4 linked regions of the Homo sapiens genome follow. The protein of the gene in region 3 interacts with the protein of the main gene of each other region in a pairwise test. Each region holds a gene or a part of one and is shown on either strand. Other genes may lie near its edges. The genes, in order: ZNF114, NDOR1, CENATAC and PPIL3.

What was found.
Region 1: the proteins of CENATAC (region 3) and ZNF114 interact in binary tests that used the Homo sapiens proteins (3 or more experiments, as listed by UniProt).
Region 2: the proteins of CENATAC (region 3) and NDOR1 interact in binary tests that used the Homo sapiens proteins (3 or more experiments, as listed by UniProt).
Region 4: the proteins of CENATAC (region 3) and PPIL3 interact in binary tests that used the Homo sapiens proteins (3 or more experiments, as listed by UniProt).

The regions. Positions count from the first base shown.
Region 1 is NC_000019.10:48,265,351-48,273,080, reverse strand, and holds the start of ZNF114 (zinc finger protein 114), read right to left. Parts: upstream 3,001-7,730; 5' UTR 2,862-3,000; exon of another isoform or gene 2,848-2,861; intron 2,179-2,847; exon of another isoform or gene 1,966-2,178; intron 1,861-1,965; exon of another isoform or gene 1,837-1,860; 5' UTR 1,632-1,836; intron 1,466-1,631; exon of another isoform or gene 1,355-1,465; 5' UTR 1,253-1,354; exon of another isoform or gene 1,249-1,252; intron 1-1,248. UniProt on the Homo sapiens protein: May be involved in transcriptional regulation.
Region 2 is NC_000009.12:137,208,687-137,215,708, reverse strand, and holds part of NDOR1 (NADPH-dependent diflavin oxidoreductase 1), read right to left. Parts: intron 3,208-7,022; coding exon 3,110-3,207; intron 1,930-3,109; coding exon 1,831-1,929; intron 1,743-1,830; coding exon 1,641-1,742; intron 1,506-1,640; coding exon 1,296-1,505; intron 1,140-1,295; coding exon 1,018-1,139; intron 912-1,017; coding exon 691-911; intron 615-690; coding exon 507-614; intron 303-506; coding exon 188-302; intron 51-187; coding exon 1-50. UniProt on the Homo sapiens protein: NADPH-dependent reductase which is a central component of the cytosolic iron-sulfur (Fe-S) protein assembly (CIA) machinery.
Region 3 is NC_000011.10:119,008,134-119,015,155, forward strand, and holds part of CENATAC (centrosomal AT-AC splicing factor), read left to right. Parts: intron 1-2,630; coding exon 2,631-2,697; intron 2,698-3,087; coding exon 3,088-3,150; exon of another isoform or gene 3,151-3,178; intron 3,179-3,805; coding exon 3,806-3,870; intron 3,871-4,015; coding exon 4,016-4,121; intron 4,122-5,098; coding exon 5,099-5,129; intron 5,130-6,860; coding exon 6,861-6,950; intron 6,951-7,022. UniProt on the Homo sapiens protein: Component of the minor spliceosome that promotes splicing of a specific, rare minor intron subtype. Negative regulator of centrosome duplication.
Region 4 is NC_000002.12:200,872,062-200,879,083, forward strand, and holds part of PPIL3 (peptidyl-prolyl cis-trans isomerase-like 3), read right to left. Parts: intron 4,977-7,022; coding exon 4,858-4,976; intron 1-4,857. UniProt on the Homo sapiens protein: PPIases accelerate the folding of proteins. It catalyzes the cis-trans isomerization of proline imidic peptide bonds in oligopeptides. May be involved in pre-mRNA splicing.

The sequences.
Region 1 (7,730 bases), on a different chromosome or scaffold from region 3:
GCTCACGCCTGTAATCCCAGCCCTTTGGGAGGCCGAGGCGGGCAGATCACGAGGTCAGGAGCTCGAGACCATCCTGGCTAACGCGGTGAAACCCCGTCTCTACTAAAAATACAAAAAATTAGCCGGGCGCGGTGGCGGGCGCCTGTAGTCCCAGCTACTTGAGAGGCTGAGGCAGGAGAATGGCGTGAACCCGGGAGGCGGAGCTTGCAGTGAGCAGAGATCGCGCCACAGCGCTCCAGCCTGGGTGACAGAGCGAGACTCCCTCTCAAAAAAAAAAAAAAAAAAAAAGCTCTTTCTCGTAAGAAACCAGTGCATCCTGCACGTCTGGCCCTGCCCAGGACTTTTCAGTTCACCCTCATCACAACAGGCTCCAATCCAATACTTTTTTTTTTTTTTTTTTTTTTTTTGAGAGAGAGTCTTGCTCTGTCGCCCAGGCTAGAGTGCAGTGGCACGATCTCGGCTCACTGCAACCTTCACCTCCCAGGTAGAAGCGATTCTCCTGCCTCAGCCTCCCAAGTAGCTAGGATTACAGGCGCTCGGCTCACTGCAATCTCCACCTCCCAGGTTCAAGCGATTCTCCTGCCTCAGCCTCCCGTGTAGCTAGGATCACAGGCGCCCGCCACCATGCCCGGCTAATTATTATTATTATTATTATTTATTTTTTTTTTTGAGACAGAGTCTCCCTCTGTCGCCCAGGCTGGAGTGCAATGGCTCGATTTCGGCTCACTGCAACCTCCACCTCCCGGGTTCAAGCGATTCTACTGCCTCAGCCTCCTGAGTAGCTGGGATTACAGGCGCATGCCACCACGGCCAGCTAATTTTGGTATTTTTAGTGGAGATGGGGGTTTCACCATGTTGGCCAGGCTGGTCTCGAACTCCTGACCTCAGGTGATCCGCCCACCTCGGCCTTCGAAAATGCTGGGATTACAGGCGTGAGCCACCGCGCCCGGCCAGCTCCAATACTTTCATGGATGCAAAGAACACAACCCCTGCAACCGCTGCATGCGGGCATCTCTGCTGCCCAAGCCCGGGGACAGGCGCTTTCGCAACGCTGCAGCACGGTATGGGGGAAGCGCCCTTCTCCCTGGGCCAAGGTGAAGGGCGCGCTCGGGGTCTGAACACGTGGGTCATTCGTGCCTTCCCCTTTCCTCCCGGAAGGGTAGAGACAATGAGGCTTTTGCAGACAGCAACTCTCAAGTCCCTGGGCCCCGGCCCGGTCCCGCCCTTAGTACGGACACTCAGGCACACTTACTCTTCCACTAGCTCCGGCTTCCAGATGTCTCTGTCGGTGGCGCAGCCCAAAAGCGCGCGCAGCCCAGGAGCGTCTCGGAGCTGCACCAGGATGGGGATCAAACTGTTGAAATAAATCAACCTAACGAGGCCGCCAGGAAGGACCGACTACAGAGATTCGTCCTGCCCAGACATTTTGTACTCGCTTCTTGACCCCTTCCTCAAAATGGACGGTGTAAGGGACCAGGGGGAGGAGAGGGGAGCCGAGCAGGCAGGGGATCCCAGCGCCCGCACTCCTGCCTGCCCACCCCCGTCCCACCCCCCGCCCCCGGGACCCGATCGACCCGACCCCAGAGTCTGACCCCCACGACCAGTAGATTGACATTTCCTGTAGAACTTACTCCCCAGGCACTCCTGATCCAAGCAGGAAACCCCAGCCTTGGGTCCTCGCTGTCGCCTCCGCCCGCGCCACCGTTCCTAGGCTCTCCAGCTGGGAAGCGCGCTCTCTGCGCAGCCAACGCGCCTCCTTGCGGGCTCCGGAGACTCCGGCCGCTTGCTGGCTTCCTGCATTTCCCAAGGAAAGAAGGCTTTTTTTTCCCCTCAGTACTGTAAAAGGGCGGAAACAGACAGGTTGGGGAGTCTCCAGTTTCTCTCTTGTCCCCATTTTTATGTTTTTGCTACCACTCCCCCCCATCCGTTGACTAGCGGCTAAACCGCAAGGCTCCCGTCGCCTACCCTTGAAATGATTTTTTTCTTCCTTCCTTCCTTTCTTTTCTTTCTTTCTTTTTTTTTTTTGAGACGGAGTCTCGCTCTGTCGCCCAGGCTGGAGTGCAGTGGCGCGATCTCGGTTCACTGCAACCTCCGCCTCCCGGGTTCATGCCATTCTCTCGCCTCAGCCTCCGAGTAGCTGGGACTACAGGCGCCCGCCACCACCCTGGCTAAGTTTTTGTATTTTTAGTAAAGACAGGGTTTCAGCGATCTCCTGACCTCGTGATCCGCCCGCCTCGGCCTCCCAAAGTGCTGAGATTACAGGCGTGAGCCACCGCGCCCGGCCCTTCTTTTCTTTTCTTTCTTTCTTTCTTTCTTTCTCTTTTTTCTCTTTTCTTTCTTTCCCTTTTTTCTCTTTCTTTCTTCTCTTTCTTTCTTTTCCTCTCCCTCCCTCCTTCCTTCCTTTTTTCTCTTTCTTTCTTCTTTTTCTTTCTCTCTCTCCCTTCCTCCTTTTCTCCCTCCCTCCCTTCCTCCCTCCCTTCTTTCTTCTCTTTCTTTCTTTCTTCTTTCTTTTTTCTTTCTCTTTCTTCCCTCCCTCCCTTCTTTCCTTTCTCTCTCTCCCTCCCTTTCTCTTTCTTTCTTTCTTTCCTTCCTTCCCCCCTTCCTCTCTCCCTCTCTGCCCCTCCCTCCCTCCCTTCCTTCCTTTTTTATTTTTTTCCTTTTCTTATTCTTTTTTTCTTTTTTTTTTTCTGAGACAAGTTCTTGCTCTGTCCTTCAGGCTGGAGTGCAGTGGCGCAATCTTGGCTCACTGCAGCCTCAAGCGATCCTACCACTTCAGTCTCCCAAGTAGCTGGGACCACAGGCACGTACAAGGCATGCCTGGCTAATTTTAATTTTTTTTTTTTTTAGAGATGAAAACTCACTATGCTGCCCAGACTCGTCTCGAACTCCTGGGTGTCACGCGTGTCCGTATAGAAGACCACCTAAACAGGCTTTGTGTAAGCAACAAAGGCTGTTTATTCACTTGGGTGCAAGTGGGCTGAGTTGGAAAAGAGAGTCAGCGAAGGGAGATAGGAGAGGGGCAGCTTTATAGGGCTGGGGTAGGCAGTGGAAAGTTACAGTTAAAGGTGGTTATTTGTTGTCAGCAGGGGAGGGGCTCACAAGGTGCATTGTGGAGAGATCATGGGACTCATTGTCCAGGAGAAGAATGTCACAGGGTCGACTGATCAGTTGGGGCAGGGCAGGAACAAGTCATAATGGTGGAATGTCATAAGGTGGGTTAATCAGTTAAGGCAGGAACTGGCTGTTTCACTTCTTTTGTGGTTTTTCGGCTGCTCCAGACTTCTTGGCTCCTGCAGGCCATCTGGACGTATATGTGTAGGTCACAGGGGTTACAATGGCTGAGCTTCGGCTCAGAGGCCTGACACTGGGCTTAAAGTGATCCTCTGGCCTTGGGAGGCTGAGGTGGGCAGATCACCTGAGGCGAGGAGTTCAAGGCCAACATGGCGAAACCCTGTCTCTACTAAAAATACAAAAACGAGCTGGGCATGGTGGTGCATACCTGTAATCCCAGCTGCTCGGGAGGCTGAGGCAGGAGAATCGTTTGAACCTGGGAGGAGGAGGTTGCAGTGAGCTGAGATAGCGCCATTGCACTCCAGCCTGGGTGACAGAGCAAGACTCCGTTTCAAAACAAACAAAACAAAACAAAACCCAAAATGACTGCCTAAACCCAGACCTCTAGGACACAGACTCAGTTTCCCACCCTGACTCTGCTTAACTGGGGAGTCGCTTGATCTTCAGGTGCCCCTGATGCAAATCAGCTGAACAAAGCGTTTATCCTCTACTCGAGTTACATCGTTTCTTTTCCTTTGAGGGTCCCCAGCAAACCTTGATGTGCATCTCTTTTTCTTTTGGTTCTTTGGGAGGAAAGATTAAGCCCAGCCCAGCCAGCTCCTGGAGCTCCCCAGGAAGGAAGGGCTGGGAGTCCCTATCTGGTCAATTAAATAATTTATTTATTTATTTATTTTGAGACGGAGTTTCGCTCTTGTTGCCCAGGCTGGAGTGCGATGGCGCAATCTCAGCTCACCACAACCTCTGCCTCCCGGGTTCAAGCAATTCTCCCACCTCAGCCTCCCGAGTAGCTGGGATTACAGGCACACGTCACCATGCCTGGCTAAGTTTTGTGTCTTTAGTAGAGACGGGGTTTCTCCATGTTGGTCAGGCTGGCCTCGAACTCGCAACCTCAGGTGATCCACCTGCCTCGGCCTCCCGAAGTGCTGGGATTACAGGCATGAGCCACTGCACCCCGGCCTAAATAATTTATTTTTTATGGACTGTCTTTCTTCACTCTAGTAATGAAATTCTACCATAAAGCTTAAATTGCCAAATATTGATCATACTTACCCCAGTTACATTTTTTTACGGTGATAAAATATACATCACAAACATTTCCATGTGAACCATTTTTTTTTTTTTTTTTGTGACGGACTCTCCCTCTGTCACCCAGGCTGAGGTGCAGTGGCACGATCTTGGCTCACTGCAAGCTCTGCCTCCCGGGTTCACGCCATTCTCCTGCCTCAGCCTCCTGAGTAGCTGGGACTACAGGCATCTGCCACGCCCAGCTATTTTTTTTGTATTTTTAGTAGAGATGGGGTTTCACCATGTTAGCCAGGATGGTCTCGATCTCCTGACCTCGTGATCCACCCACCTCGGCCTCCCAAAGTGCTGGGATTACAGACATGAGCCACCGTGCCCGGCCTCCATGTGAACCATTTTAAAGTGTACACTTCAGTGGCATTAAGTACAGCCACATCGCTGTGTAACCATCATCACGATTCATCTCCAGAACTTTGTCATCTTTCCCAATTAAAACTCCGTACCCGTTAAATAATCACACCCCATTCCCTTTTTCTCTCAGTCCCTGGTAAGCTCTGTTCTACTTTCTGTGTCCAGGAATTTGACTGTTCTAGGAATCTCCTAGAAGTGGAATCACTCGGCCTTTGCCTTTTTGTGTCTGACGTATTTAATTTTGCACAATGTTTTCCAAGTTCACCTACGGTGAAGCATGTATCAGTATTTCATTCCTTTTAAAGTCTGAAAAGTATTCCACGGTATGTAGTGTTCAAAAGTAAAATGTATGGCTGGGCATGGTGGCTCACACCTGTAATCCCAGCACTTTGGGAAGCTGAGGCGGGCGGATCACCTGCGGTCAGGAGTTCAACACCAGCCTGGCCAACATGGTGAAACCCCGTCTCTACTAAAAATACAAAAATGAGCCAGGCATGGTAGTGCATGCCTGTAGTCCCAGGTACTCGGGAGGCTGAGGCGGGAGAATTGTTTGAACCTGACGGGGAGAGGTTGCAGTGAGCCGAGATCGTGCCACTGCACTCCAGCCTGGGCAACAGAGTGAGACTCTGTCTCAAAAAAAAAAAAAAAAAAAAAAAAGTACAATGTGACATAAGAAAATTTCTGACCTCGGGCTGGGGGCGTTGGCTCACACCTGTAATCTCAGCACTTTGGGAGGCTGAGGTGGGCGGATCACCTGAGGTCAGGAGTTCAAGACCAGCCTGACCAAAATGGAGATACCCCGTCTCTACTAAAAATACAAAATTAGCCGGGCGTGGTGGCGCATGCCTGTAATTCCAGCTACTCGGGAGGCTGAGGCAGGAGAATCGCTTGAACCTGGGAGGCGGAGGTTGCGGTGAGCCGAGTGTGCCATTGCACTCCAGCCTGGGCAACAAGAGCGGAACTCCATAAAAAAAAAAAAGAAAATTTCTGACCTCTTCCCCAAATAAACTACCTGCACGTAAGCCCTCATTTCAGGCTCTCCTTTTTGGAGGCTCCCAAATTATGACCGAAGGAGTCCAAGGACTTGAGAAGAACCCTGTTAAACCTTGGTTCAGGTCTGGGCTCAGGGCACTAAAGGATATTCCTCTTGCGACCTCTAGTGGTTGTAGGTGTCCAATTCCCTTCTATTTTCTCTGGGTCTTCATCTCCAGCAGTGCTTCCCTTCCCTTGTTTTCTCATCCTCTCCCTTCAAAAACCTGCTTCTTGGCCAGGGGCGGTGGCTCACGCCTGTAATCCCAGCACTTTGGGAGCCTGAGGCGGGCGGATCACGAGATCAGGAGTTCGAGACCAGCTTGGCCAACATGGTGAAACCCAGTCTCTACTAAAAATACAAAAATTAGCTGGGTGTGGTGGACGCCTGTAATCCCAGCTACTTGGGAGGCTGAGGCAGGAGAATCGCTGGAAGCCAGGAGGCGGAGGTTGCAGTGAGCCAAGATTGCGCCACTGCACTCCAGCCTGGGTGACAGAGCGAGACTCTGTCTCAAAAAAAAAAAAAAAAAAAAAACCCACAAAAAACCACAAAAAAACCTGCTTCTTTTCTGGTATCCTCAATATCCCGTTTCACCTATGCCTTCACTGCTAGGTGGATCTTTTTAAAGAAAATTGGGAACATTATATTATTTCACCTGTAAAAATATCACTACGATGGCCAGGTACAGTGGTTCATGCTTTGAGAGGCCGAAGTGGGTGGATTGCCTGAGCTCAGGAGTTCGAGACCACCCTGGGCAAAATGGCAAAACCCTGTCTCTAAAAAAAAAAAAAAAAAAATTAGTCAGGCGTGTGGTGCACGTAGTCCCAGCTACTTCAGCTACTTGGGAGGCTGAGGCGGGAGGATCACTTGAGCTCAGGAGGTGGAGGTTGTAGTGAGCTGAGATCTTGCCACTGCACTCCACTCTGGGTGACAGAGTGAGACTCTGTATCAATAAATAAAAAATAAAAAATAAAAATATCACTATGTATGTTTAAAAGATGAAGAGTTAAAAAATGCTTTACTGTCTTACATGAATACTCCCTTACAATGAAAAGTAATCATCATTCAGGACATCATAAAATATCCCGTTAATGTTGTCATTTCCCTGGTTCTTATTTTTACTTTATTGCTTTGCATAGAGATACAAATCATCCACTATAATAGGTTTTTGTGTGTGTGTGTTAATTCTTTGTTAATCTAAGTTGCCACTTATTTAATTCCATCCCCCCATTCAAACATTGCTATTGTTGTAGAAAGTAGGTCATTTTTTCTGTAAAATTTTCTTTGGTTTCAGTTTTGCCAATTAGATCCTTGTGTTGTCATTTAACATGTTTTTCTTTCTTTCTTTCTTTCTTTTTTGAGACGGAGTTTCGCTCCTGTTGCCTAGGTTGGAGTGCAATGGCGTGATCTCGGCAAACTGCAACCTCCGCCTCCTGGGTTCACACCATTCTCCTGCCTCAGCCTCCCGAGTAGCTGGGATTACAGGTGCCCACCACCAGGCCCTGCTAATTTTTTTTGTATTTTCAGTAGAGACGTGGTTTCACCATACTGGCCAGGGTGATCTCGAACTCCTGACCTCAGGTGATCTGCCCGCCTCAGCGTCCCAAAGTGCTGGGATTACCAGCGTGAGCCACTGTGCCCGGCCTTGGTTGCCTGTTTTTATGGTTATTTCTTCATGATATGGTAACCAAGGGGTGGATTATTCATGCCTTCCCTTTTTGGTCCACATAGGGTAACTTCCTGACGTTGCCATGGCATCTGTAAACTGTGATGGAGCTGGTGGGAGTGTAGCAATGAGGACCACCAGAGGTCACTCTCGTCGCCATCCTGGTTTTGGTGGGTTTTGGCCGGCTCCTTTACTGCAACCTGTTTTATCAGCAAGGTCTTTATGACCTGTATCTTGTGCCGACCTCCTATCTCATCCTGTGACTTAGAATGCCTTCATCATTTGGGAATGCAGCCCGGTAGGTCTCAG
Region 2 (7,022 bases), on a different chromosome or scaffold from region 3:
TGGGAAGGCCAGACTCCCAGGCCGCACCCAGAGGGGCACCCGGACAGGTCCTATTGCAGGAAGGAGGTGGCATGAAGAGGATCAAAGACCTGTGCTGAGTCTGCTGGGGCCCTAGCCCAGCATTTGCATGAGCATGGGAGAGAAGGGGATATGGGCCCACGGCCCCCACCCTGGGAGCAGGGGTCACCTTGCCCAGGGTCCAGGGATGCCAGCCAGGAGGAGCAGAGGCCCCGGCGGGGCTCCTTGAGGCGAGTCTGGAACTGCACTACAGCCACGAGGATCTGCAGCCGTGAGGGGTGAGTCTGGGGAGGACGGCGGGGTGGGGGTGGTGGAACAAGGCTGCCCTCACCTGTGCCTGGGCCGTGGGCCCCACCTACCTCCCGCAGAGGCAGTCCGACTGGGGGAACGTCACCTGGTCAGAGGGCAGCCCCTGCTTACAAAACCCCACAGCCCCGGTCCCAGCTTTCCCAGGGCCGGTCCTGGGCTCCAACCACCAGGCCCCTCACCAGCAGCGAGGAGGCGATGGAGAAGGCCCTCGGCCGGATAACGGGGATGAGGTCCAACAGGTAGTCGGGAGGGATGGCGGCAGCTGTGTGCGGGAAGTCACAGAGCACCTAGGCAAAGAGAGTCTCAGGGTGGCTGCAGCGTGGCTGTAGCTCAGGGGCTGGGCCTGCCGCCCTCCCATCTCACCTCCAGGATGGTCCTGCGGGGCCGGTTGCAGTATTCAAAGAGCTCCTCCTGGCCTTGGGCAGAACTGAACTCCAGCAGCTTCTCCCGCTCCAGCTCATGGAGGGATAGACAGGCCAGGAGTTCGAAGAAGGAGCGGCGAGGCACGCTGGCGATGTCCAGGTAGTGGGACACGAGGTGCCGCATGGAGCAGGGCTGGGGCAGCCTCGTGGGGGAGGAGACATCTGCAGGGTGAGTGGGAGGCCTCCGTGGGCTGCGGCGGAGCCCTTGGGGTGGGGGCCCAGGGCACGGGAGAGGGCAGAGAGTCAGGGTGGCCGAGGCTGGGCTCACCTGGCTCCCGCGGCTGCAGCATGAAGAGCTGGTCAGGGTCCAGGCCCAGCACCTGGCAGAACCGCTGGACATGGGCAGCCGAGTTGGAGGGCTGAATCAGCACCACATCACCAGCAGCAAAGCTGTGTGGAAGAAGCCACCAGGGCTGTGGGGACGCCGCAGGGAGGATGTCGGGGCCCCGGATAGAAGTCATCCCCTGCAGCCCGGCCCAGCCTCCTCCGAACCCCAGACCCACGGCCCACCTCACCTTGCCCTCCTCGGTCCCCAGCAGTCCCCACCTGATGCCAGAGCCCAAGATGTCAAACTCAATCAGCCGAACGTCCTGGAAGTGGGAGGGGCCGGTGACTCTCTGGTTGGAGATCATGGGTGCTAGGAAGGGCTTCGACTCTGACGGGGGCTCCTGAGAGCCGGGGTGAGCTACCCGCTGCCCCTCAGAGCCCGTGCTGGGTGCCTCTTGGAGGAACAGCAGGGTGAACTTGGAGGGCAGGCTGTGGGAGGGCACGCTGGTCAGACCAGGACCCACTCCCCAGGGGCCGCCCACCCACACGGGAGGGACCCAGGGCGAGGTCCCCAGGCCAGGTTGGGTCTGCTGCGCCTGTGGGTGACCCGGGGCCCACACTCACGGGACTCCGGGAGGGATCTCAGTGAGGCCCGGAGGCGGCGGGTACAGCCCCAGAACCCTGTCCCACAAGTCTCGCAGCCAGGGGTCCACAGCAGCGTCGGGCCTGGGAGGGAGCACGTGCGCTGGCCTGAGCGGACCCTGCGTGTGGCCAGACCAGACTGTGGAGGCGGGTACCACGCCCGCAGACTCACCCCAGCTCATGCTGGTCATCGCCCAGGCACACGGGCAGGAGGGCGCTGCCCCCAAGCTGCAGTAGCCGTCGGTGCAGCTTCTTGGCCACGAAGTTGAACCTGTGGAGACAGTGAGGCTGGTCCTGGGCTGGAGCCCGGGCGGAGAGTGGTGCCCAGGCAGAGTGGAACCCGGGAGAGTGGAGCCCGGGCGAAGAGTGGAGCCTGGGGAGGGCCTCCCTCGGGTGGAAAACACACTCCACGCTGGCCGCACCCTAGGAGGGGGCAGGGCCTCCACACGCCAGGGGCTGCCGAGACCAGGGCAGCTGCCAGGGTGCCAAGCAGCAGGTCCTCTGCTCGCAGAGAATGAGCCTGTGTGGGTGGGAGCAGGCGGCCTCGTCCCACTGATGGGCCCTCATCCCTGGGCAGGGACTTGAGGCAGCTGAGGCCTCCAGGCCCCCAGCCAAGATGTGGGTCACTCCTCAGCTGAGAAACTCTGTGCTGGGGAGAGAGCCAGGCATCTTCCCGGGGGTCAGTTTCTCTTCTCACTCTGGTTCCGAGGCATGACTGGCTCTGGGTCACGCTCCTCCCTGGGAACGCTGTCGGCAGCGGCCTCCCTCCCTCTCTTGAACGAACACTGTGTCCCACACAGAACAACGTCACGCAGGAAACAACGTCATGCACGGACCTACGTCACGCACGGAACAAAACCTCCCGGCAGAACCGGGGGGAGCTGTCTCCGATCTTCCCGTTCTTTTTCATCTGAAATGACTGACACCTGGCTATGCAAACGGCTTTTGATGCTCGGTGCTCAGCGGACCTGGGCCCTACGTGGACAGTCGGGGTTTTCACCGTTGTGGGGTCTAAAGATGCCATTTGCACACTGAACATGCCACTCCTTGCTTAGGGTGCAGAGGAGCACTGTGAAAATGCCCAGGAGAAAAGGCAGAGGTGGCCTCTGGGGTGGCAGGAGCATACGGGGTCCTCCTCCAGGCTCAAAGTCGTCAACACTTCACAGCACGCCTTTTTGTAAAAGTGGGGACCGGCGCCAGGTAGGCCTGTGTGACGTCAGCGTGGCTGGAGCCCAGCCCTTTGCCACCCTGCCTGCTCCCCTCTGTGCCCTCCCCGCAGCGTGAAGCCTGGGGTGCCCACCAGGGAGCGTTGTGGAGAAGCCAGTACCACTGCGAGGGCCCTGAGGCGCGCAGGGGCCGACCCTGGAAGCTGGTCTCGGTCCTCTGCCAGCACACCTGTTGCTCGACCCCCAGAACTGTTCCGTCCGCCCACTGTCCCATCCCCTACTCACTTGGCGTATGAGGAGTCCCCGAGGCCCAGGACGGCAAAGTCCATCTGACAGAGGGCAGTGGAGGGCAGGTTCTTCCGGAATATAAACCTCCAGAAGTTCTACAGCCGGAGGAAACTCTGAGTCAGAGTCCTCGACCTCTAGGCTAGCCCCACAGCAGGGGGTGAGGGGAGGGTCTCAGGGGAACAGGCAGGTGGGTAGGATGGGGGCAGAATACAACTGGACCTATCTGACCAAAAGGCAGGGCCCAGGTCCAGCCTGCAGGATGATGGGCACCGGGAGGAGGCAGGGCTGGTCCAGCGTCTAGGGAGACCAGGTCCCACCCTGCCCACAGGAGCCAGACCCTGCTGTGCTCTACAGGCCTGCGTGGAGCTTCCTTCCTGGGACATCACCCTCCTCTGCCCCAGGCTCTGAGCTGCCAGGAGCAGCTCTGCACTTGGTCTCCAAACTGTCCACCGCCCCAGGGGTCCCTCACCTCCACCTGTCATTTCCCAGCCAGAGCGTGGGCCTCCACTCCCTGAGTTGGTCTGTCCCAGAGGCTCCTATACTCAGACCTCTGAGGTCCATCCCAAGGGCTCTCACACTCGGCCCTCTGAGGTTCCAGTGTCGCTGAGACACATCCCCCTCCTTCCGTGGCTGCAGGACCTCGAGCCAACAGGGTCCAGATCCTCTGGTTCCACACCGTGCCTTCCACGGTGTCCTCCCAGCTTGATCAGAGGCCCCCCCAAGGAACCTACTGCCCCCTCCCTACCTGGATCCCAGGTGGCCTGTGTGCGTGGTCTTCGCCGCCCACCCACCTCCCCTTCCCGTGGCCAAGCATGGAGGCTAGCAGACAGGGAGGCCCTGGCCTTGTCAGCCCACAGCTCTGACCCTGGCCCTGGACCACCCCTGGCCTCCCGGGACCTCACTGCCTCATCAGCTGCCTCTCTGGGCCACGCTATGCGAGCAAATGTACCCAGCCTCTTGCCCCCGAGACCCTCCCTAGCGCCCTGCTGTTGAGACACCCTTGCTTCCTGAATCCCAAAAGACTCTCTTCCCTGCTCCGTTTGGTGAACTTCCTCCTTCCCGAGAAAAGGGTTCTGGAGAGAACATTCTTGTGACTTTTCCCTCACTCGACTGGCATGCGGCTGGGTCTGTCCTGGGCTTGGCACCACCACTGAAAAGCCAGGGCCCCACTTGCTGCCCTTGGGGTGTGTAGGGCACTCTGTCCCCAGAGGCTAAACCCACAGTGACATGCCCCGGGGGTAGCCCTTTCATTCTCAGCAGGGCCCTTCCTGGGCATGGGGCTCTCTGGCCGCAGACCCCGCTCTAGACATCATTACTTTCCTGGATAACTTCCTCTCCACCATTGTCTTCTCATTCTGAGGCCACTGGAATTATCTTCGAATTTTGGTATCTGCTTCCTTCCATTTTCTATCTTGCTTTTTGTCATACTTTCTAGAAGGATTTCTCATCTTTTTTTGAGATGGAGTCTCACTCTGTAGCCCAGGCTGGAGTGCAATGGTGCGACCTCAGCTCACCGCAACCTCCGCCTCCCAGGTTCAAGTGATTCTCCTGCCTCAGCCTCCCAAGTAGCTGGGATTACAGGTGCGTGCCACCATGCCCGGCTAATTTTTGTATTTTTAGTAGAGACAGGGTTTCACCATGTTGGCCAAGCTGGTCTCGAACTCCTAACCTCAAGTGACCCACCCACCTCGGCCTCCCAAAGTGTTGGTATTACAGGCGTGAGCCGTCGTGCCCGGCCTTTTTTGTTGTTGAGACAGGGTCTCATTCTGTCATCCAAGCTGGAATGCAGTCTTGAAATCACAGCTCACTGCAGCCTTGACCTTCTGGGCTCAAGCGATCCTCCAACCTCAGCCTCCCAAGTAGTGGGGATTACAGGTGTGTGTCACCACGCCCAGCTAATTTATTATTATTTTGTTTGTAGAGACTGGGTTTCGTCATGTTGCCCAGGCTGGTCTCAAACTCCTGGGCTCAAGCGATCCTCCCACACCTTGGCTTCTCAAAGCGCTGGGATTCCAGGCTTGAGCCACTGTGCCCAGCGTCTTCTAATCTTTTAAAGTTTTTTCATGTCCATTTAAAGAACTATTTCTGGCCAGGTGTGGTGGCTCACACCTGCAAACCTAGCACTTTGGGAGGATGAGGCAGGCAGACTGCTTGAGCCCAGAAGCTTGAGACCCCATCTCTACAAAAAATACAAAAAAAAAAAAAAATTAGTTGCATGTGGTGGTGCGCACCTGCAGTCCCTGCTACCCAGGAGGCTGAGGTGGGAGGATCACCTGAGTCTGGAAGGTCAGGGGGCAGTGAGCCGTTGATGGCTGCCACTGCACTCCAGCCTGGGCAACAGAGCAAGAGCTCTGTCTCCAGAAAGAAAAAGAAAAAGAGAAAGAGAAAAAACTGTTTCCTGTTCCTGAGTCTCCAGCTTTGCCCCGTGGGGGTAACATCCTTGGCTGCTTCAGCCTGTGCCCGTCTCTGCCTGTTATGCGGGTCTTTCCTCGGGTGGGGTGTGGTTCTTTCTGGTGCATGTTTTCACCCAGGCTGGAGTGCAGTGGTGTGATCTCGGCTCACTGCAACCTCCACTTCCTGGGTTCAAGTGATTCTCCTGCCTCAGCCTCCTGAGTAGCTGAGATTACAGGCATGCACCAATACACCCAGCTAATTTTTTGTATTTTTAGTAGAGATGGGGTTTCGTCATGTTGGCCAGGCTGGTCTCAAACTCCTGACCTCAGGTGATCCACCCGCCTCGGCCTCCCAAAGTGTTGGGATTACAGGCTTGGGCCAGCGCGCCCAGCGCCCCATGGGTTTCTTCACCAGACAGGCAGGGACCTGGTCACTTGGCCTTTCACTGTGGTTCCTCTGTTTTCTCCTGTCTGCTGCTGGGGGCACCTGCCTCACCTACAGCATCCTCAGCAAGGAGCCAGGGTCTTCCTGTTTCGCTGTGGATGGAGAGCCAGGGTCCTCTGGTTTAGCTATGGATAGCCACTAAGACTCGCCCCTGCCTCTGAGGCCATGGGCCCTGGGTCCACAGCCTCTTCAAGGAGCTCCCAGTTCCCGCTGTGGGCATTAGCTGCCCCCTCCAACTCCTGGTCTTCTCTGTGGGTGCCCACACTTGGGACTCTTCGTTTCCTCGTTGACCTGAATCCCGGCATTAGCACCAGCTTCCTGCCACTGGCTGACTGAATGCCCAGCCCAGCCTCAGTCCCTCTCCTCTCCCATGCTCTGGGGCTTCCCTATCCCACCATTCCCCTCCCGTGCCTGTGCTCCACTCTGAAACCCCTTCTCTTCCATCCCACTCTATCTGAGACCCCTCGACCTATGTTCAGCTCTCCCCCAAGCCGCTGCACATCCCCTGCCATACCTACTCAGTCTTCAGCCTCTTTCTCCTGTCTCTCCCCTGCCAGCAATTAAACATGCCAAGTTTTGGCCGGGTGTGGTGGCTCACGCCTGTAATCCCACCACTTTGGGAGGCTGAGGCAGGTGGATCACGAGGTCAGGAGATTGAGATCATCCTGGCTAACACGGTGAAACCCGATCTCTACTAAAAAAATACAAAAAATTAGCTGGGCGTGGTGGCGGCGCCTGTAGTCCCATCTACTTGGGAGGCTGAGGCGGGAGAATGGCGCGAACCCGGGAGGCAGTGCTTGCAGTGAGCTGGGATCAACGCCACTGTACTCCAGCCTGGGCGACAGAGCGAGACTCCGTCTCAAAACAAACCAACAACAACAACAACAAACAACAACAAAAAAAACATGTCAAGTTTCTCCCGTCTTTTTTTTTTTGAGACAGGGTCTTGCTCTGTCGCCCAGGCTGGAGTGTAGTGGTGTGATCACAGCTCACTGCAGCTTTAACCTCCCAAGTTCAAGAGCTCCTCCCGCCTCAGCCTCTGGAGTAACTGTGATCACAGGCATGAGCCACT
Region 3 (7,022 bases):
GTATTTCTAGTCGGGTGGGATGAGAGACGGAGAAAAGAAATAAGACACAGAGACAAAGTATAAAGAAACAACGGTGGGTCCAGGGGACTGGTGCTCAGCACACCAAGGACCTGCACCGGCACCGGCCTCTGAGTTCCCTCAGTTTTTATTGATTATTATTTTTCATTATTTCAGCAAAAAGGAATGTAGTAGGACAGCAGGGTGATAATAAGGAGAAGGTCAACAAATTACATGTGAGCAAAAGAATGTATATCACGATTAAGTTCAAGGGAAAGTACTATGCCTGGACGTGCACGTAGGCCAGACTTATGTTTCTCTCCACCCAAACATCTCAGTGGAGTAAAGACTACAAGGCAGTATCACTGTAAACATGTCTCGCCTCCCGCCACAGGGCAGCTTTTCTCCCATCTCAGAGTTGAACAAATGTACAATCGGGTTTTAAGCCGAGACATTCAGTTCCCAGGGGCAAGCAGGAGATAGTGGCCTTCCTCCATCTCACCTGCAAGAGGCTTTCCTCTTTTACTAATCCACCTCAGCACAGACCCTTTACAGGTGTCGGGCTGGGAGACAGTCAGGTCTTTCTCATCCCACGAGGCCATATTTCAGACTATCACATGGAGAGAAACCTTGGACAATACCCCGCTTTCAAGGGCAGAGGTCCCTGCGGCTTTCCACAGTGCATTGTGCCCCTGGTTTATTGAGACTAGAGAATGGCAATGACCTTTACCAGATGTACTGCTTGTAAGTATTTTGTTAACAAGGCACGTCCTACACAGCCCTAGGTCCCTTAAACCTTGATTTTATACAACACATGTTTTTGTGAGCTCCAAGTTGGGTCAAAGTGGCTGGGTCAAAGTGGCTGGGACAAAGCTACAAATCAACAACATCTCAGCAAAGCAACTGTTTAAAGTACAGGTCTTTTTCAAAATGGAGTCTCTTATGTCTTTCCTTCCTACATAGACACAGTGACAGTCTGATCTTTCTTTCTTTTCCCTACAACTTATTATTATTTTTGAGACAGAGTCTTGCTCTGTCACTGGCCTGGAGTGCAGTGGCCCGATCTCGGCTCACTGCAACCTCCACCTCCGAGGTTCAAGCAATTCTCGTCTCAGCCTCCCAAGTAGCTGGGATTACAGGCACCTGCCACCACATCTGGCTAATTTTTTGTGTTTTTGTAGAGACAGGGTTTCACTATGTTGGCCAGGCTGGTCTTGAACTCCTGGCCTCTTGATCCACCCGTCTCGGCCTCCCAAAGTGCTGGGATTACAGGCGTGGGCCACACCGCGCCTGGCTTAAATGATTTTTTAAAACTAAGTGGCTTAATATTCTGCAATTTTAATCTGAGAGGGGTGGAACAGAAAGCCCCATACCTCATCAGAACCTGGGAGTTGATGAGAAACCATTTGATGACAACCTCCTAGGGGAGATGGGGAGGGAAGTGGGAGATGGCCTCATAGCAGCTTCTGGCAGACCTTCCACCCTCGTGTTCCAGGAGGATTAAACAAGCCTTTCAGCCACAATTCGGTAAGGTGTGGCTCAAGCCATTGTCTCCTTGGATATATTCAAGGCTCTCAGGGAACACTGTTGATAGTGGTATTGGTATTATACTGAAACTTTGTGTTGAGAACCAGGGTTTTGAGAACCAGGGTTTTCACTATGGCAAAAGGAAGATACAAGTAAGGAATGGAGGCATTTGAATAGGGAGGTGACAGTACAAATTACTGATTTAAGGCCAGGCATAGTGGCTGATGCCTGTAATCCCAGTTCTTTGGGAGGCCAAGGCAGGAGAATTGCTTGAGCCCAGGAGTTCGAGACCAGCATGGGTGACATGGCAAAACCCTGTTTCTACAAAAAACACAAAAATTAGCCAGGCATAGTGGTGCTGTCCTGTAGTCCTACCTACTCAGGAAGCTAAGGCAGGAGGATCTCTTGAGCCTGGGAGCCTCTTGAGCAGAGGTTGCAGCGAGCTGAGGTTGTGCCACTGCACTCCAGCCTAGGCAACAGAGCGAGCCCGTCTCAAAAAAAAGACAAAGAAATTTAGGACAGTATGCAAGATTTGGCCTGGATTCTTCTGAGGATGTGAAGTAATGGAAACAGTAAGACTGTTCCAGACTAGGGGAAGACTAGAGACCTAATAGCTGGATTCCATGTGATCTTTTGTTGGACTTTGGGATTGGAGGTGAGAGTAGAGAAGGCATAATGCACGTTTTTGAGACGAGGGAAATGTGAATATAGCCTGTATGCCTACACTCAAGTCTGAAGACATGTAAACCATGTCTATACTAACCAGCCAAATATTTGAACACTAAAAGGAAGAATTTTCTTAATGTGGTAATGGTATCATGGTTGTATAGAATGTTCCTCCTCTTGGGAGATGTGTGTTGAAAATAGGGTTTGACGTCTAAACCTATTTTGTTTTGGCAAAAAGGACGTGTGTCTGTACAAAAGAAGTGGAGCCAGTATGGCAAAATGTTTACAAGGACTCTGGGTGAGAGGTACATAGGTGCTTACTATACTGTTTTGTTTCTGAATTTGGAATTTCTCAAAATTAAAAAAATATCTACTGAGGAGCTTTTCGTTTTAACTGGTGGGGAATGGGTTCTGGGTGGTTTTGCCCCTTTTCTTTTTAGATTCAAGAAATCCATGGTGAAAGGTTTGGATTCCTATGAAGAAAAGGAGGATAAAGTGATCAAGGAGGTAAGTTAAAGTAGCAGTCCCTCACCCTTTTTGCACCAGGGGCTGGTTTCGTGGAAGACGGTTTTTCCACAGATGGACCCAGGCAGGGGATGGTTTCAGAATGAGACTGCTCCACCTCAGATCATCAGGCACTAGATTCTCATAAGGAGCACGCAACCTAGATACCTTGCATGCCCAGTTCACAATAGTGTTTGTGCTCCTATGAGAATGTAACACCACCACTGATCTGACAGGAGCTCAGGCGGCAGTGCTGTTGCAGCCTGCTTCCTGACAGGCCACAGACCAGTACTGGTCCACGCCTGGGGGTGGAGGGCCCAAGTTAAAGGAAAGGCCTCTGAAGAAACTGGCCCCCATGATCCTGTACCTGTCTAAGCAGCCTCTCTCCCACAGATGGCAGCTCAGATCCGTGAGGTGGAGCAGAGCCGACAGGAGGTGGTTCGGTCTGTCTTAGAGGTTGGTTTCCCTCGGAGGATCCAGACCAGTATCCAAATCCACTGATCCCTGGCATTCCCAGGTCCAGCATTTCATGGACTAGTGCTTCTTCTTCTTCTTTTTTTTTTGGAGACAGAGTTTCGCTGTGTCACCCAGGCTGGAGTGCAGTGGCACGATCTCGGCTCACTGCAACCTCCACCTCCCAGGTTCAGGTTCAAGCGATTCTCCTGCCTCAGGCTCCCGAGTAGCTGGGATTACAGGTGCCGCCACCACGCCTGGCTAATTTTTATATTTTTAATAGAGGTGGTGTTTCACCATGTTGGCCAGGCTGGTCTTGAACTCCTGACCTCAGGTGATCCACCCGCCTCAGCCTGCTGGAATTACAAGCATGAGCCACTGTGCCCGGCCATGAACCAGTGCTTCTAAGAGAACTCTGACTGCATTCTCATCTGCTTGGCTTGAATTCCCTTACCTGTGTGCCAGGGGGCAGGCCTAGTCAGTGAATATGTGGACAGGACTGGGAGGGAGGGAGGGAAGAGTCTGTAAAAGATGGGCAGTACCTTCCATATGCTAATTTGTTTCCTTCCTGTGATACTGGGGTCTGGAGGGTGGAGGCATGGCCTAGGCAGGCTCTTAAGCATCCCAGACACATTTATTTTTCCTGAATCAAACTCAGCCTCAGGCAGTGCCAGACCCAGAAGAGGGCTCTTCAGCACCTAGAAGCTGGAAAGGGATGAACAGGTAAGACTATTAGGGAATCTCTTGTTGGGAATTTGACATCTTAGAACATTCTGCAACCTTTTGCCTGGGAAATGGAAACAGATCTAATCTTTACCACCCTCATGGCTCAAGGACCTCATCTGGCAGCCTGGCTCATGTTTTTCAGCCAAGTAGCTTCCAGCTTACAGCAGCCCTCAAATTTGGACCTGCCACCAGCTCCAGAGCTTGACTGGATGGAGACAGGACCATCTCTGACATTCATTGGCCATCAGGTACAAAGGATAAGCAAGCCAGAAGAGGGCCAATGGTCCCTCAGGTCTCAGGACCCCTTTCTCCTGATTTTCTACCTATTCAAGCCACTGCTGCCTCCACTGCAGGCTTTTCCTTCTTCCTTCACTGTTCCCTAGTAGTGTTCTCAGACCTCTTCTCACCCTCCAAAGCGATCCTATTCACATGTATTGACACTTAGGAGTGCCAACTCCTAAATCTTGCCCTCTGTAGAACTCATAGTTCCAACTCAACACAGGACATTAAATATCCCACAGGCATCTGAAACTAACCCCCACCACTCCTATATTTCCAATCACTAGATGCAGATCCTTTCCTTTTCCATCTCCCATATCCTGTCAACAAGCGGTCAATTTTAACCTGTCTGCCTCCATTCAGCCTTTGGGCAATTTCTACTCCCCCTTCAATCCTGCCTCACAAACAGAAAATCATTGTACCACTTATGATTTTACTCTACACTTCAGCTGTATTGTGTTGCTTCGGGCTTTTGCAGTTGCCATTGTCTAAAACCTGCTTTCCTTCCCTCATCACCTAGTTTACCTTCAACTGTTAGCTCAAATGTCACTTTTTCATAAAAGGCTTATCTGAACAGGTTATCTCTATTTCAAGTGGATGTAGCACCATGTAAAGTTGCAAATGTAATTTACGTAACTTGTGCTTAATGCTCTTCCCCAATTATATGTATGCTGTGAGGGCAAGGTTTTGCTCCCCTGGCATGTAATAGCCACTCTACTTACAGACATCTCCACTGTTATGACTGTGAGCTTCCTGAGGACAGGGTTGTCTTAGAGTGACTTACTGTGCTTTCAAAGTTTAACATCAGCTGGGGTGCAGAATTAGCATTGTGGCAGCAGTCACACCCACCTCTTTTAAAGTGTGCTTTGTCTATCGTTTCTAGGATTTTTTTTTTTAATCATGCCTAGACTTTAACTAGCACTTTTTTTCCCATTTCCAACTACAGGATATACCAGGAGTTGGTAACATCCACTCAGGTAAGGTCCAGGGCAGTGTTTTTAAAACCCTGGGAGATTTTTTTTTTTTTTTGAGATGGAGTCTTGTTCTGTCGCCAGGCTGGAGTGCAGTGGCGCAATCTCAGCTCGCTGCAACCTCTGCCTCTCAGGTTCAAGTGATTCTTCTGCCTCAGCCTCCCAAGTAGCTGGGGTTACAGGTGTGCACCACCACACCCAGCTAATTTTTTTTTTTTTTTTTTTGAGACGGAGTCTCGCTCTGTCGCCCAGGCTGGAGTGCAGTGGCGGGATCTCGGCTCACTGCAAGCTCCGCCTCCCGGGTTCACGCCATTCTCCTGCCTCAGCCTCCCAAGTAGCTGGGACTACAGGCGCCCGCCACTACGCCCAGCTAATTTTTTGTATTTTCAGTAGAGACGGGGTTTCACCGTTTTAGCCGGGATGGTCTCGATCTCCTGACCTCGTGATCCACCCGCCTCGGCCTCCCAAAGTGCTGGGATTACAGGCATGAGCCACCGTGCCCGGACTTTTTTTTTTTTTTTAAATAAAGTTGGCCAAGATAAAGCGTATGTATCGGTAAAAGCCTTATATCCAGAATATATGAAGAACTGTCAACTTGATAAGGAAACAACCCAATAAAAGCATATGAATAATGTTCAACATTAGTCATTAGAGAAATGCAAATTAAAACCACAGTGAAATACCACTACATATGTATTGGAATGGCAGAAATTAAAGACTGATCATGCCAAGTGTTTGGCAGTGTAGAAAAACCAAACCTTCATACACTGCTCTTAGAATGTAAACTGGTACAGTCACTTTGGAAAACAGTTTGGGATACACCTACCACATTATCCAACCGTTCCACCCCTAACTAGAGAAAAGAAAGCCTGTCTACATAGACTTGTACACAAATCTTCAGAACAGCTTCACTTGTAGCAGCTCCAAATTGGAAACAATTCAGATGTCTATCAACAGGCAAATGGATTAACAATGGAATAGTATTCCAGGATGAAGACAGAATTATTGATACGTACGACACAGATGAATCTCAGAAGTCCAGACCTGGCCGGCGTGGTGGCTCATGCCTGTAATCCCGACACTTTGGGAGGCCAAGGCAGGCGGATCACGAGGTCAGGAGTTCAAGACCAGTTTGGCCAACATGGTGAAACCCCATCTCTACTAAAAATTCAAAAATTAGCTGGGCATCGCAGCGCACGCCTGTAATCCCAGCTACTTGGGAGGCTGAGGCAGAATTGTTTGAACCGAGACCTGGGAGGCGGAGGTTGCAGTGAGCTGAGATTGTGTCCAGCCTGGGCTAGAGCGAGACTCCTCTCAAAAAAACAAAAGGCCAGACCCCACCTCAATGTCCACACACAGAAAATCCTAAAAAATACAAACCAATAAAGCAACTGAAAGATCACCGATTGCCTGGACATGAAAATATTTTAATGGGGGCAGTGATACTTACAGGGGGATGTTTGGGGTCTAGATTGTAATGGCTTCGCTCAAAAGTCACCAAATTTAAGTGTGTATCGTTTATGTCAGTTGTGCCTCAAAGCCATTTTAAAATGACTGTCACATATGGGGTATGTCGCTTTAAATTAGCCTAGGGCCTTCTAAAGCTCCAGAATTCCTGGGCTTTGCTTTTAGACATTTCTAGCTCTTAATGAGGAGAGGTAAGCTAACAGCTAGGACATGTTTCACAATAGCCTGAAGACTTAAAAAAAAAAAAAAAAGCCTTAATTTTTTTTTCAGGTGCCACACCTCCCTGGATGATCCAAGATGAAGAATACATTGCTGGGAACCAAGAAATAGGACCATCCTATGAAGAATTTCTTAAAGAAAGTAAGTAAACTAATTCAAGAGAGGATCGTCTAAATCTTCACACTCAAAAATGGTTTCCTTGCCTGTGTGTGG
Region 4 (7,022 bases), on a different chromosome or scaffold from region 3:
CCCACAAGACAGCCCCTACCACTTCGGATGCCAGTTCCAAGTCCCGATTGTGATCTGTACTATCTGACTAACCATGATATAATTTGGGATTTTTCATGCCCCCCAGCTCTGTTCAATAATTTTCAAAAATGGCTCATAGAACTTAGGAAAGCACTTTATTTATTACTATGGGCTATTATAAAGGTTACAACTCAGGAACAACCAAATGGAGGAGATGCATAGGGCAAAGTCTGAGAGAGGGGCACAGCGCTTCCATGCTCTTCTCGGGGTGTGTTACCCTCTTAGTATCTACTTGTGTTCACCAACCTGGAAGCTCTCAAACCCTGTTTAGGGTTTTTACGGAGGGCACATTAGGTAGGCACGATTAATTAAATCACTGGCCACTAGTGACTGGAACTCAATCTCCAGCCCTTCTCTCCTTCCCAGAGGTCAAGAATAGGAGGTCACTGAATGTTCCACCCCTCTAAAAATACATGGCTGATTCCTCTGGCAACCAGCCCTCCATACTGAAGCTATCTAGAACCCCACCAAGAGTCACCTCATTAGCATAAACTCAGGTATGGTTGAATGGGGTTTATTATGAACAATAAAATATTCCTTTCACTCCTGTCACTCAGGAAATTGCAAGGTTTTTAAAAGAACTATGCTGGAAACCACGGATGAAGTCCAAATATGTATGTCTTATTACAACACACTAGTCATAAAGATTTCTTTGCTACAGGAAATACATGGAGAAAGTATGTAGATGACACTATTAGCAATACTGCCCTACAATGAGAGTCCTAAAGTAGGTGACCACTCCACTTTGTACTTGTTTTTTTTTTTTTTGAGATGAAGTCTCGCTCTGGTCCCCCAGACTGGAGTGCAATGGTGTGATCTCGGCTCACTGCAACCTCTCCTCCTGGGTTCAAGCAATTCTCCTGCCTCAGCCTCCCAAGTAGCTGGGATTATAGGAGCCTACCACCACGCCTGGCTAATTTTTGTATTTTTAGTAGAGACGGAGTTTCAGCATGTTGGCCAGGCTGGTCTGGCCTGACCTCAGGTGATCCGCCCGCCTTGGCCTCCCAAAGTGTTGGGATTCAGGCATGAGCCACCAAGCCCAGCAGTTAATTGTTTAATTATAGTATTTCTTTCTTTTTTTTTTTTTTTGAGATGGAGTCTCACTTCCATTGCCCAGGTTGGAGTGCAGTAGCACTATCTCGACTCATTGTAGCCTCTTCCTTCAGGTTCAAGCAATTCTGCATCAGCCTCCCAAGCAGCTGGGACTACAGGCACATGCCCCCATGCCCAGCTAATTTTTGTGTTTTTAGTAGAGATGGGATTTCACCACATTGGCCAGGCTGGTCTCAAACTCTTGACCTCAAGTGATCTGCCCACGTCAGCCTCCCAAAGTGCTGGGGTTATAGGCATGAGCCACCACGTCTGGCCTAATTATGGCATTTCTACTTTTTGCTTCTGGATAACAACAAGAAGTAATAAAAATAGGAGAAGAGAAGACTGACAGTTAACAGCCTCCAGCAATCCCACTTCATGTTACCACCAAGAAAAAATATATTGAGAGCTATTCTTCAAATACAAGTTTTGGAAATTTCAGTCTAAAACATTTGCTAAGAAAGAGTGGCTTTTGATCTCTTGACCTCGTGATCTGCCCGCCTTGGCCTCCCAAAGTGCTAGGATTACAAGCGTGAGTCACTGCACCTGGTCATCTGACTGCATTTTGACTGCAACCCGTCACATGAGGTCAGATGTGGAATTTTCTACTTGTGGCATCATGTCAGTGCTCAAAAAGTTCCTAATTTTTAATTTTCAGATTAGGGATTCTCAACCACTGGTATGTACTTTAAAAAATTAACAGATTTGTAGGCCTGGCGCAGTGGCTCACGCCTGTAATCTCAGCACTTTGGGAGGCCAAGGCGGGCGGATCACGAGGTCGGGAGATTGAGACCATCCTGGCTAACATGGTGAAACCCCGTCTCTACTAAAAATACAAAAAATTAGCCGGGCGCGGTGGCGGGCGCCTGTAGTCCCAGCTACTTGGGAGGCTGAGGCAGGAGAATGGCGTGAACCCAGGAGGGTGAGCTTGCAGTGAGCTGAGATGGCGCCACTGCATTCCAGCCTGGGCGACAGAGTGAGACTCTGTCTCAAAAAAAAAAAAAAAAAAAAATTAGCAGATTTGCATTTTATTTTGCATTTTCACAAAATGGGTACTTCAACCAAAACATTTTGATTTTACCCCTAAATATAGACATTTAAGTCTTTAAATTATAAGTCTTAAAGGCTATCCCACCTTCTAGGTCAGTAAGAGAAACAGAGGAGGTAGAAAACATAGGTCTCAGGTAAAAAGTTAAAAAAACCCAGCAGGTAGAACTGAGGCAGTTAAGTAGAGTCAAGTATATGGGAAACGGACCCCTTGGAGAACTAGAGGAAAGTTACTGGATCATCTTCCCAGAAAAATGTGTGTGCATCTGTATACAACAAACAAGGAATTAATGAACCTAAGGTTAATCTTTGTTCTAAACTCTACAGTTTTGTCGCAAATCCAGTAAAATGAGTCCTGGTAATAACTGAACAATAATTTTGAATGATGTTGGTTAAGGGAGAAAATAAGAGGGAAACTGGGTTATTTACAAACATAAAAAAACTACTAGATGTTGTAATATTTCTTTTCTCCTTGATTATTATTAATGTGTAAATTAGATACATGTATATGGAATGAAAAAGAAAAGATCTGTCTAGATCTCACTGCAGCCTTGACACCCTGAGCCCAGCAATCCTCTCACTTCAGCCTCCCAAGTAGCTGGGACCATAGGTGTGAGCCACCACACCTGGATAATTTTTAAATTTTTTTGTAGAGACGGGGTTTCACTATGTTACCTAGACTGGGAGTCCTCTATTTTTAATTAACCTAATTTGGCATCCAAACTATTAAATAGAACAAACTCTAGAATTGTGCCTTGGTTTATTAAGCATGATAATTATTTGTTGAACGAACAGACAAATTGACTTCCCACTGATTTATAAAAGCAACTCCCAGACATAGTACTCTTAATAGATACCCTGGCAGAAACTGTGAAATACCTTCCTAGGAGCCATTCTTCTTACTCGGAGAAATCTAATTTTAGTAAGGGTGGCAATGTGGCTGAAATACATTTTCTACCCTCCATTGTAGGTAAGGAGTGGTCACATTACTAAGTTCTGGGTCTTCTGGGAAAGTTTTTTTTTTTTGAGACGGAGTCTCGCTTTGTCACCAGGCTGGAGTGCAGTGGCGCAATCTTGGCTCACTGCAATCTCCACCTCCAGGGTTCAAGCCATTCTCCTGCCTCAGCTTCCTGAGTAGCTGGAATTACAGGCACGCACCACCGCACCCAGCTAATTTTTGTATTTTTAGTAGAGATGGGGTTTCACCATGTTGGCCTGGATGGTCTTGATCTCCTGACCTCATGATCTGCCCTCCTTGGCCTCCCAAAGTGCTGGGATTACAGGTGTGAGCCACCGCACCCGGCTTTTCTTTTTTTCTATCTTTTTTTTTTTAGAGATAGGGTATCATTGTTGCCCAGGCTGGAGTACAGAAGTGTGATCTCAGCTCATGCAGCCTGGAACTCCTGGGCTCAAGTGATTCTCCCACCTCAGCCTCCTGAGTAGTTGGGATTACAGGTGTGTGTCACCACACTTGGCTAATTTTTAAATTTTTTTTATAGAGATGGGTTCTGCTATGTTCCACAGGCTGGTCTTGAACTCCTGGCCTCAAGTGATCCTCCTGTCTCAGCCTCCCAAAGCACTGGGATTACAGGCCTGGGAAAGTTCTGTTAATTAAAAAAGGTGAATCAGCTGGCAAGCACCTTTTGTCTTTCCTCCCCTTTCCTCCCTGATACACAGAAGTTTTGATAAGAGCTGTGCTGCCAATATTATGACAGAGGCGCCTAGAACACTGGTAACAAAATGGAACCACCATGCCAGTCCATCTTGTTTAAGCCACTATTTTTCAGATCTGTTAGTTGCTGTGAAATGCTATCATTAATGAAAATGGACCAGCCTGGGCAACATAGTGAGACCATGTCTCTAAAAAAAAAGTGTTTTTTTTGTTTTTTTTTTTTTTAAAGTAGCTGCGCATGATGGTACACATTTGTGGTTCCAGTTACTCAAGAGGCTGAGGTGAGAAGATCACTTGAGACCAGGAGGTTGAGGCTGCAATGAGCCATGACTGTGCTACTGCACCATACTCCAGCCTGGCGACAGAGCCTTTCGTCTCAAAAAAAGAAAAAGAAAAAGAAAATAGATATACTATGTTAATTTGCATAACAATATTGAAAAATTACTGGCCTCTTTTACAAAATAAGGAAAATAAAGCTCAGGGAGATTATAACTTTCCCAAGGTCACAGGGTTGCTAAGTGGTAGACTTAAACTCCAGGTACGTTTAGCTCTCACACCACTCTTCTTTTCTTTCTTTTCTTTTCATTTTTTTTTTTTTTTTTTGAGGCAGAGTCTCACTCTGTCGCCCAGGCTGGAGTGCAATGGCATGATCACGGCTCACTGTAACTTCCGCCTCCCAGGTTCAAGCAATTCTCCTGCTTCAGCCTCCTGAGTAGCTGGGACTACAGGTGTGTGCCACCACATCCAACTAATTTTTTAAAATATTTTTAGTAGAGACAGGGGTTCTGCCACATTGGCCAGGCTGGTCTCGAACTCCTGACCTCAGACAATCTGCCCACCTTGGCCTCCCAAAGTGCTGGGATTACAGGTGTGAGGCACTGCGCTCGGCCTCACTCTTTTCAATATTAGTTATGCTACTGTCACAGCTAAGCATATGCACCACTTGCATTGAAATGCTAAAAGAAAACCATAACCAGAATACTCACTTTCCAAATACGGTGTATTTCATGTCCAAATGTGGCTGTTTGCCATAGGTGATGAAGAACTGAGATCCATTGGTGTTCGGGCCATTATTAGCCATAGATACAACACCTCTAACATTGTGCTGAAAAAGACACATCAAAGTATTAACTGTGTTTTTATATAACCATCCCAAATATAGTATTGAAACAAGACAGGCACACCTTTGTTTTCTTTTTTAAAAATATTTTGAGATTGGGGTCTCACTATGTTGCTCAGGCTGGTCTCTAACTCCTAGGCTCAAGTGATCCTCCTGCCTTAGCTTCCAAAGTGTTGGGATTACAGGTGTGAATCAGCACACCCAGCCAAGACATTCAATCTTTACCTTCACAATATTTAAGGGAGCAAGAAAACATTTAACCAACTTCTCTCTATTAGGGATAATCCAAATGTTCAGTTTCTGCCTTTTCTGTACCTTTGAAAACTTGTATGTAAAAGGTTAATATATCAAATAATATTTCTCAATTAATTTCATTTTCACTTTGAAGAAATACAGCCATGGACACTTTTTGCAATACCAACAAATAATAGAAATAATCCTTACATTTATATTAAGGAATAGTGTGCTGGAATGAAATGATCAGGCAGGCAACAAAACCAAAATGCCCACAATCTCTTCTCACATACAATGGACTCTTGCTAGTTTCTTTATCTGTAAAACAAGGGAGGCTGGACTAGTTCAAGGGTCTATTTATAACTCAGATGCTCACAAGGGTCAAGCAGATAAACTGACAATTGGGCAGAATGTAAACATTAGAGAGAGATGAAGTCTGGCAAAATGAATAGGCTATCTCTTGATTAATGACATTAAATATATATTTTTTAACTAAGGGCCACAGATAATGCATCTGTGGGTGTTCCACTCATGGGCAGTCAGTTTATAACCCCAGGACTGAACGATCTAAGAAAGGTCTCACCTAGCTCTACTATCATGATAGTATTTGTTTACAAGAGACAGTGTATAGAAATTAAAAGGACCTTACTGATAAGAATGAAGATGTAACTGTGAACTATGTTACAGGGAGGTGCCTGTAATACACTACAACTCCACCAATTACTCTAGCTTTAGCTATTCATTGGGTGACGCTAATAAGTCATAGAGAAGCACCTATATCAAAATATTAATGCTTGTCTCCCTAAAAGGTGTCCACCAATCAAATGTAATATTAAATACACATGTAATATTTAATACATACACAATATTTAATACATACACAAAAATATAGTTAATAAAAATGTAAGTTAATAAAATAAGCACCCATTAACATATTTCCCAGCTTTCAGAGTTAAAATTTACCAATTCATTGAATAATGGGAGCTCAAGAAAAAATAAAAGTTACCAATTAATTACATATATCCATGTGCTCCTCTCCATTTATTACCTCAGCCTCTACAAGAGGTAACCACTATTCTAATACCTTTTTTTTTTCATTTTTTCATTTTTTTTTTTTTTTAGAGACAGGGTCTCACTCTGTCACCCAGGTTAGAGTGCAGTGGTGCAATCATAGCTCACTGTAGCCTTGACCTCCTAGGCTTGAGCAATCCTTCCACCTTGGCCTCCTGAGTAGCTGAGACTACAGATGTACACCTCCATACCTGGCTAATTTTTTAACTTTTAGTAGAGATGAGGGCTCAATATGTTGCTCAGGCTGATCTCAAACTCCTGGCCTCAAGTACTTGTTCCTCTCACCTCGGCCCCCTAAAGTGCTGGGATTATAAGAGTGAGCCACTGTGCCCAGCCCTAACACATTTACACATGCCTAAACAACACATTCTTTCCTTTTCCTTCTGAATATAATTACATCGTAACATTTTAGTCTTCTGGGAAATGCTTTCTACAAATAACATTGTTACATTTCTAAGGTTATACATGTACATATAGCCATAGTTTATTACTATTTTTTTACTACTATGTGATATTTCACTACTGAATATACTACAATTTATCCACAATCTACATAGTGATTCATCTACAATCAGTGGACATTTGGGTTGTTTCTAGACTTTTGCTATTACAAACAGTACATCAGAACACTCCTGTACATGTCTCTTGGTGCAAACTTACAAGTTTCTCTTGAGTAAACATTTGGGAATGGAATTCCTGGGCCAGAATATATGAAGAGTCAATACA